3 separate regions of the Homo sapiens genome follow, and all the other regions are linked to region 2. The links come from fine-mapping of genetic effects on gene expression. A gene starts in region 2. Each other region holds a variant in brackets. All regions are shown on one strand. Distances are between the middles of the regions.

The links. PIP is the estimated chance that this variant, and not a neighbour inherited with it, causes the effect. A credible set is the group of variants that fine-mapping cannot tell apart.
Region 1: its variant is the best candidate, but not a certain one, in a credible set for the expression of PPP1R3B in whole blood (INTERVAL, PIP 0.66).
Region 3: its variant is the best candidate, but not a certain one, in a credible set for the expression of PPP1R3B in thyroid (GTEx, PIP 0.80).

What each region holds. Positions count from the first base shown.
Region 1 is chr8:9,074,576-9,077,422 of GRCh38, reverse strand. It overlaps a transcript of ERI1 not described here. Among named protein-coding and RNA genes, the nearest start is that of SNORD3I, 17 kb to the right of the region's middle. The variant T/G (reference allele first, on the strand shown) is at 1,270.
Region 2 is chr8:9,149,223-9,151,722 of GRCh38, reverse strand. It overlaps PPP1R3B (protein phosphatase 1 regulatory subunit 3B), which reads left to right and starts at 1,065. Exons shown (of 2, transcript NM_024607.4): 1 at 1,065-1,160. RefSeq lists silencers at 61-310, 811-1,080 and enhancers at 431-670, 717-1,665.
Region 3 is chr8:9,080,670-9,083,516 of GRCh38, reverse strand. It overlaps a transcript of ERI1 not described here. Among named protein-coding and RNA genes, the nearest start is that of SNORD3I, 23 kb to the right of the region's middle. The variant A/G (reference allele first, on the strand shown) is at 1,654.

The DNA of each region.
Region 1 (2,847 bases), 74 kb after region 2:
TGTATGCCTTTTCTCCTGTTAACCTGTCTATTGTCAGTTTCTTCCAGGGACTCAAATTATTGAACCTTCAGAAGGTAAAAGGAAAGTTCCCTTTGCCTCTACATAGGTTTCATGAAACAGGTGGAATTTTTGGTGGGCCCTGAAGGTTTTCAACAGGCAGGGAATTAAGCAGGGAAGGAATGTGGCAGGGAAATGCATGTCACATTTAAGAACTGGAGAACATGAGAAAATTATTAATCTGATGATATGGCTGGAAAAGAAGTGTAAAACCACAGAAAGCTTTGAATACCAGGAAAAGGAGTTTCAGCATACTTCAGTAGGTAATGGGTAGCTAATAAACATTCTGACCAGCAGATAAGTAACACTGGCATGCGTATGAGGTACATTGGAAGGGGAAGAGCATGGAGGCAGCGAAAGCTGTGAAGTCCACATTCTTTAACAGCTATCTCTACCTCACCTTTGGTTTTATTCCCATGTCCTCACCTTCCACTGGTGTGGCCTTATAATAAATCTCTATCTTCTAAATCATCAACTCTGCCCCAGAGAGCTCCTTCAAAGGTGGGGCAGCTCTCCTGTGGTCCTAGCCCTGCCTTCTGCAGCACTGCAGGAGAACACACATCCCCGCTTCCCCCTAAAGATTCTTGGCAGCCCTCCTGTCCTCATTCAGATTTCTCTTCTTGTTAAATATGCCCAGTTTTTCAGCCATTTCTCACTGAAGTGGCTTTTCCACCATTCTAGTTACCCTTCTCTGGATATTATGTAGTTTCTCCCACAGAAAGAGAAGCACATGGTATTACCAAAGGCAATGGATAATTTAAAGAAACAAACTCTTGATGGGCCAATAAGAACTTAATCCCCCACCCACCTCTTTTCCTTACTGGGTAACTTTATTGGGAGTACTTGAGAGAAAGTCAAGTTCAAGGCCCAGATGAGTTCTCACTTGTCTATGGTATCATTTACATGTTGGCACCTTGGTCATATTTAAATCCTTCATCTCATTCTGACTTGGGTTTGCTTTGACTTACAGATGAACCCTAGATGTTGTATATCTTTCCTTTAGGGAATTTTATGGATGCCAGTCCTGTAATTTATACCCTCTCTTCTGTACCGTAGTTTTAGGGGACAAAACTGTGTATACATGGCTTGCTTGTATTTTTTCCTTCAGATTTTCTTTTTTCTGGCTGGGCACAGTGGCTCACACCTGTAATCCCAACACTTTGGGAGGCCGAGGTAGGAGGACCACTTGAGCCCAGGGGTTTGAGACCAGCT[T/G]GGGCAATAAGTGAGCCCTCGTCTCTACAAAACAACAACAGCAGCAAAAATTAGCTGGGCATGGAGGAATACACTCATAGTCCCAAGCTACTTGGGAGGCTGAGGCAGGAGGATCACTTGGACCCAGGAGATTGAGGCTGCAGTGAGCCATGATTGCATGATTGTGCCACTGCACTCCAGCCTGGGTGACACAATGAGACCCTGTCTCCAAAAAAAAGCCAAGTGCAGTGACTTACCCCTGTAATCGCAACACTTTGAGAGGCTGAGGCAGGAGGATGGCTTGAGCCCAAGAGTTCAAAACCAGCCTGGGCATATGGCAAGACCTTGTCTCTATAAAAAATAATAAATAAAAAATTTTTTAAGATTATTTTTCCCTTTCACTGTAATAGTAAACCTAATAGTTAACCTCTGGGTGATCATTACATTTTATTTCTTCAGTTCATGTTCATTTTCCCTGAGCCTGAAGGGTTAACCTGTCTGTGGTTGATGTGTGCACACCGTGGGGATTCTTTGTGGCTTTCCTAAGCCCCCTGTAAGTCTCTTTAGAAGCAACAACAACAACAAAATGCATGGCTAATAGATTTCCACTTCTAATAATAGGGTCAGTGCTATTCCATGTAAAGACCGTGTTCATAATGAAAATAAAGCATTGCAAAAAAAAAAAAGGCATGTTCAGCATGTGATATTAACCTAATGTTTACATGGAGGCTCTCAAAAGTGAATGTCTTTAGCTGTGTTCTTATTATTGTACACAAACTCCTCGGTAATCTCTCATCAGTCTCCAAACCCTGAAAATATTTCCCAATACATGTCTCCCTCATTTCCTCATAGTATATAACACATGTATCCAAGGAAAACTAAGGAGAGACTGGGTTTTCGCTTTGTGTGGGAACGCATTTCACCTTGCTTGCAAAACTGAAAGGTCTGTCTGGGCTCAGCTGATAAGATGTTTTGGTTTGATAAGACTTTTCTTCTGTGTTGCTTGGTGTGGAGACATAGTCAGATTCATTTAGAAAACATTTTTTATTGACTGTGACTCATTAGAAAGAATGTCATGTGCTGGCATTTCATCACCGAACAGGGAATCTTGGCCATATAGGGCCTTTGGCTCAGATACGATTCAGGAAAGGAATAATGGGCTTCCACGGGACCAGAGGAATGCAAGTAAACACGTGGTGCCCGGCGCTCTTCTGTGTCACCTCACTGTGGCGCTGGTGGGGGCAGGCTTGCTCTTGTGACACTGAAGATTAAGACCACACCAGACCACACCAGGAGATACTGCTTTTCCCTTAGAAGGACTCACAACCTAAGAGGACGATGTGCTCTATTAATTAAGGTTTTAGGAATTTAGAAATTTTTAAAAAGGAAATATGACAGGAAGTTCCCATATAAATGCAGGCACAATAAATATAAAGTACTGGCTGGGCGCAGTGGCTCACGCCTGTAACCCCAGCAACTTTGGAAGCCCAAGACGGGAGGATCACTTGAGTCCAGGAGTTTGAGACCAGCCTGGGCAACAAAGTGAGACCTCAGCTCTACAAAAAATTAGCTGGGCATAATAGTATATACCTGTAGTCT
Region 2 (2,500 bases):
CGATCACGTGGCGAAGCGGTGCTCCCCAGCGCCGTGGCTGCGCGCCCATTGGTCGGCGGCTGGAGTCCCGGGCGCGCCCATTGGCTGCGGGGGGCGTTCACGTGGCAGGGGGCCTGGGATGGACCCCGGGGTCCCGAGAGCTGGCAGGAAAGTTAAAGGGGGCAGCGCGGCCGCGGGGAGCTCGAGTCCCGGGTGACTGCTGGAGGGAGGAGGTGACCGCGCAGCTCTCGTGCACGGACGGACTTCGCCGCCCGCGGGGGGCGCGAACCCGAGCCCGGGCCCAGCTCCTGCCGTCACGGCAGCTGTCCCTGTTCCCCCAGGGCGTATGCTGCCGCGGGCTGGCGCGTCTGCCCTCGGGACTTATGAGCTGAACCCGGTACGTAGCTCCCCAAGTCTCGAGTCCGAGGGAAGGGCTGGGGACAACAAGGCGAGGGCGTGCAGCGGGGACCTCTTTGGGTTCCTGTCACCTACATTTTCACCGTGCGACTTGCACTGGCACACCGGGGCTGGAACACTCTAGGTAGCTGGCCCCAGGGAGCTGTTGCTTCAGCGTGGAGAGGGCGATCCAGGGACCGCAGCTGGGAAGCGCCTCCCGGGCCCACGTGCTCCACCGCGCTGCTGGGCCCGGCTGCGACCGTGACCCGGGAGCTGCGGCTGCGGCGGCTGATCCCTTTACCACCTGTTGTTCTGGCTTCGAAACTAGCACAAGTTCCCAGCCCCGGGTCCCGAGAGGTCTGGAGACTTCTCCAAAGTTGGGTAGTGGGGTTTGGAGCTTAAGGACAAGCCGCTTCGTCTCTCTCCGGGCCTTATTTTCCCTATAAAACGCGAGGAAATACACTTGGTAGGCTCTCAGGCCACCGAGGGCGACGGGACCTAGCACGATCCCCGTCCCGGGCTGGCGGAGGCCAGGCGGCCGCGCGGGGGTGCTGGTGTCGCGCTGCTTGCTCCGGCCGGGGTTGCCCCTTTGCCGGCCCCGCCCGGGTGCGATAACGGGCTCCTCCTCCTCGTCGTCTTCCTCCCACCGCCGACATCTCCGGGAACCCAGCCCAGGCCCTGCCTCCCGGACACACCGACGCTCACGTAGTCGCGCTTGCCACAACCCTGCGGGCTCTCCGATGCGGCGAGCGAGCTGGGGAGGGGGCTTCTCCGCGGCCCAAAAGGTGGGTGCGGCGCGAGGCCAAGGAGGCTTGTAGGGAGGTTGGGGGCGGAGTGCAGCCCTGGTCAAACTGGACGGAGGGGACAGAGTCGGAGAGTAACTTGTGGGATCCTCCAGCCTGGAGAGCACTGGCCTGCTCCTGCGTCTCTTTGGAATCCAGAAAAAGGGGTGTGGAAGGCACAGTAGCTGCAAAAGAGGGAGTGGGGGCCGGTAATGACTTACTGGAAGATTTGGGGCCTGTCAGAGCACTGTTTTCTGAAAAAGAGGAGAAAACAGAGGAAAGACTGGACTTGGGAACTTGGAGACTTGGAAGGTGTTGGAACCTGTGGTCTGAGTGGCGGGGGCCTGCCTGGGAGACCCAGGGTGCAGCAGAAGAGACAATTAGAGCTTTGGTCTGGGAGGAAGAGGAGGAGAGGAGGAAATGTTTCCTTGGGCAGAGTTGTCCAGGAGCCAAAACTAAAGTGAAGACAGCTGGAGGACTTACACAAAAGTACAGTTGAGGTATTTAGGAAAAAAAGTTAGTGGGAAGAGAAGCGGCACCAGGGGTGGGTCGCAACATACAATGTCAGGGCCAGCAGGGACCTTGGAGGGGACCTCAAGCCCAGAGCAGCTGAGTGACTCGCTCAAGTAGCAAAGCAAGGTGCGGGCATTCTTAGCCTAGTACTCTGTTTTCCCTCGTACGTTTTTAGACGGCAGGGGCTGTGTCATTTGAACTTGCCTCTTTCCTAGAATATGCAACTGTATTCACAAATGTCAGTCTCCAAGATGCTTTGGATGATGGGGACAGGATCAAGGGGTACAAGGAGCCTTTAAGGCTGTGAATAGGCCCCCATGGTCTGAGTACAAAGGGGAAAGACATGCACTCTCTTCATGCTGGATCAGTGAAACCTTTTGGAAGGGAACACAGAATTGTTGGAGGGAGGTAGATGGCCATGTCTTTAAAAATGAAAATTATAACCTGGTTGTGAATGTTTACTGAATGCAGTTCGGCAGCTTTCAGTGTTCCTGGTGGGTTGCTTGTGCATCTGATTTTTTTGTTTGTTTGGTTTTGTTTGTTTGTTTTGAGACGGAGTGTCGCTCTGTCGCCCAGGCTGGAGTGCAGTGGCGCCATCTCTGGCTCATTGTAAGCTCCGCCTCCCGGGTTCACGCCATTCTCCTGCCTCGGCCTCCTGAGTAGCTGGGACTACAGGCGCCCGCCACCACGCCCAGCTAATTTTTATTTGTATTTTTAGTAGAGACGGGGTTTCACCGTGTTAGCCAGGATGGTGTCGATCTCCTGACCTCGTGATCTGCCCGCCTCGGCCTCCCAAAGTGCTGGGATTACAGGCGTGAGCCACCACGCCC
Region 3 (2,847 bases), 68 kb after region 2:
GGTGGTTCATCGCACTGTTCTCTCTTCTTTGGTATATGTTTAAATTTTTCCTTAATAAAGAGATAAAAGTTTATAAGGCATCGAAAGCAGAAAGAAAAAGAATGGAGATAAACATCAATTTTTGACCCCTAGATGGTATGCTTTCTCTTGTTACGGTATGCTTTCTTTAGGGGGCAGATACCATGTAATAAGAGATCTTTGGATGGAAGTTACCGTCAGAGCACAGCCATTGTTTTAGCAACATTCCAAAAGGAATAAAAGAAGTAATATTTTTCACTGAAAGTAGATCAAGATAAGGGATTATTGCCACAGTCATTGACTTTGCTTCCCCCTGACAAATGCACAGTGACCACTTGTTACATTCAATGGAGCGATAAAAGCTCTGTTTGGCTGGGCTTTTCTAGGGTTATCAGCAAATAAAAAATGCAGGGCCCCAGTTAAAATTAAATTTCAGATAAATAGCAAATACATTTTTTTAGTATACTTATGTCCCATGCAATATTGAGGAAATGCCTATGTTAAAAATTTATTTGTTGTTTACCTGAAGTTCACACTAAGGTAGATATTCCATATTTTATCTGGTAACCCTACTTTTATGACTTACAAAATTTAGGATATTCCATCATCCCCACTTTTCTCCAATGCATTCCATGTCTTAGTTCACCCTGAACTGACTAGACCGGACTCTTGCTATTATGACTCTTCGGGCATCTCATCATTCACTTTCTCTATGTTTCTAGAAAGACTTTCTCCTAGACGTTAGATAGGTTCAAGGGTGGACTTTCTGTCCGACCTTCTGGCCCCTGAAGGGAAATGGGGAAGGAGAGAATCCATTTGCCTAAGTGTTCCCAAGCAGGTGCCTACTTTCTAAGATGAGGAGCCCAGATGTAGGTCCTCATCCATTTCTTTCAATATCCTTTCAACACAGCAGAGATTAAGACCCCCAAGAAGTACAGATCATTCCTGCTGTTGCATCTTTTACACAGATATGGACTTCAAAGGAAACAAAGGAAGAATGATTTCATGCCAGAAAGCAGGAGATACCTTCTCATCCAGCTTAACTCTCATTTTGTGAATGTCATTTTCAGAATATTAACACCAGATGATCAGGTTTCCATGGCAGAGAAGCCCTTCTGTCTTTTCCTGCCTACTGGTGACTTGGCAACTCATTAGCATGTCTACTGGACGTGAGCCAGAGGAAGGAAGTGATAAAACACCATGAGTCAACATGTTACTTGCCAGAAGTTCTGGTAAAAGGAGTAAGAGGAAAACAAGAAAAACAAAGAAAACAAGAGTCTTAGGACATTGTGAGGGTCTCCATTCTCCTTCCCCTCTAAACCAGGCTCATAGTGGACCTCACCTGATGGAAGGTTCTAGAAAGAGACTAAACTTCACTTCCTGGAGTCGTAAGAAATATCTGCCATTCATGCTTTCCATTCTACTCTGAGGTTAAACAAATATTAAGAGTTCTAATGGGGTGGGGGGACACAGTGACTTTAAAAGTTGGCTGCAGGGTCCAGATGGACTAAGATGAAGGCAGAATTCTTCATACAGAGAGAACAACTTTTGCTCAGAAAAACAATATTAATGGGTTTATTTGGTCTTCCAGTGCAGGCTAATGAGAAGTCTAGACATAGAATAATTAAATTGCTT[A/G]TTTTTCATAAGAAATGGGAGTTGTGGGGGTTCCCTCTCTTGGCTTTGGAGCACCCCTCCCTTTGTCTCTGTACAGGGGAGCTTCTTTCTTTCTTCCCCCTTCTTTCTTGCCTATTAAACTCCCTGCTCCTTAAAACAAACAAACAAACAAACAAACAAAAACCAAAAAAAAACAAAAACAAAAGAAGAAGAAGAGGAAAGGAAGAAATGGGAGTTGTTTTAAGTGTTCCCTTTAGGTAGGGAAGACAAGAATTCTGAGAGCCATAGAAAGAAAGAGAGTGAAGAAATGGGTAGCAGAGGGGAAGAGGGATCCCAGGGAACATATCAGGGGAAGGATGGCCGGAGAGAAAATGGCTGAGCTGGCAATGCCTGAGGGATTCCAGCATCCACTTTAAAAAAATAATAATTTATTGTGGGAAATTTCAAGTATGTACAAAAGTAACCAGACTAGTATAAAGAACCTCAATGCACCCTTGGCAGCTTCAACAATTATTAATGCACAGCCAATCTTGTTTCATCTAAAATGCCCCACTCACTCACCTTTCTCCCATTAATTATCTTGAAAGAATCTCCAGTGATATTGTTTGGCTCTGTGTCCCCACCCAAATCTCATCACAAATTGTAATCCCCATGTGTCAACAGAGGGTCCTGGTGGGAGGTGATTGGATCACATGGGTGGTTTCCTTCAGGCTGTTCTCATGATAGTAAGTGGGTTCTCAAGAGATCTGATGGTCTTTATAAATGACAGTTGTCCCTGCTTTCTCTCTCACCTGCTGCCATGTAAGACGTGCCTTGCTTCCCCTTCACCTTCCACCATGATTGTTAAGTTTCCTGAGGCCTCCCCAGCCATGAGGAACTGTGAGTCAATTAAACCTTTTTTGTTTATAAATTACCCAGTCTCAAGTAGTATCCTTATAGCAGTGTGAGACTGGACTAATAAATCCAGATAGCATATTTTGTCAGTGAACATTTCAGTATAGCATTAAATCTTAAGTAGTAGCCAATTCTGGGCTGTGCTGTCTGCCCCATTCTTTGCACCGCTGCCCTCCACCCCCCATTTAGCTGATATCTGCACTAAATGCTTGTTCCTGCAGGAGCCGAGAGAGTGGTGCCTTGGGGGAGGGGCAAATGAAGAAGTGGCCAAGGTCCACACTGGTGACGATTCCACACTCAGAGCTCTGTGCTGCTAGAACC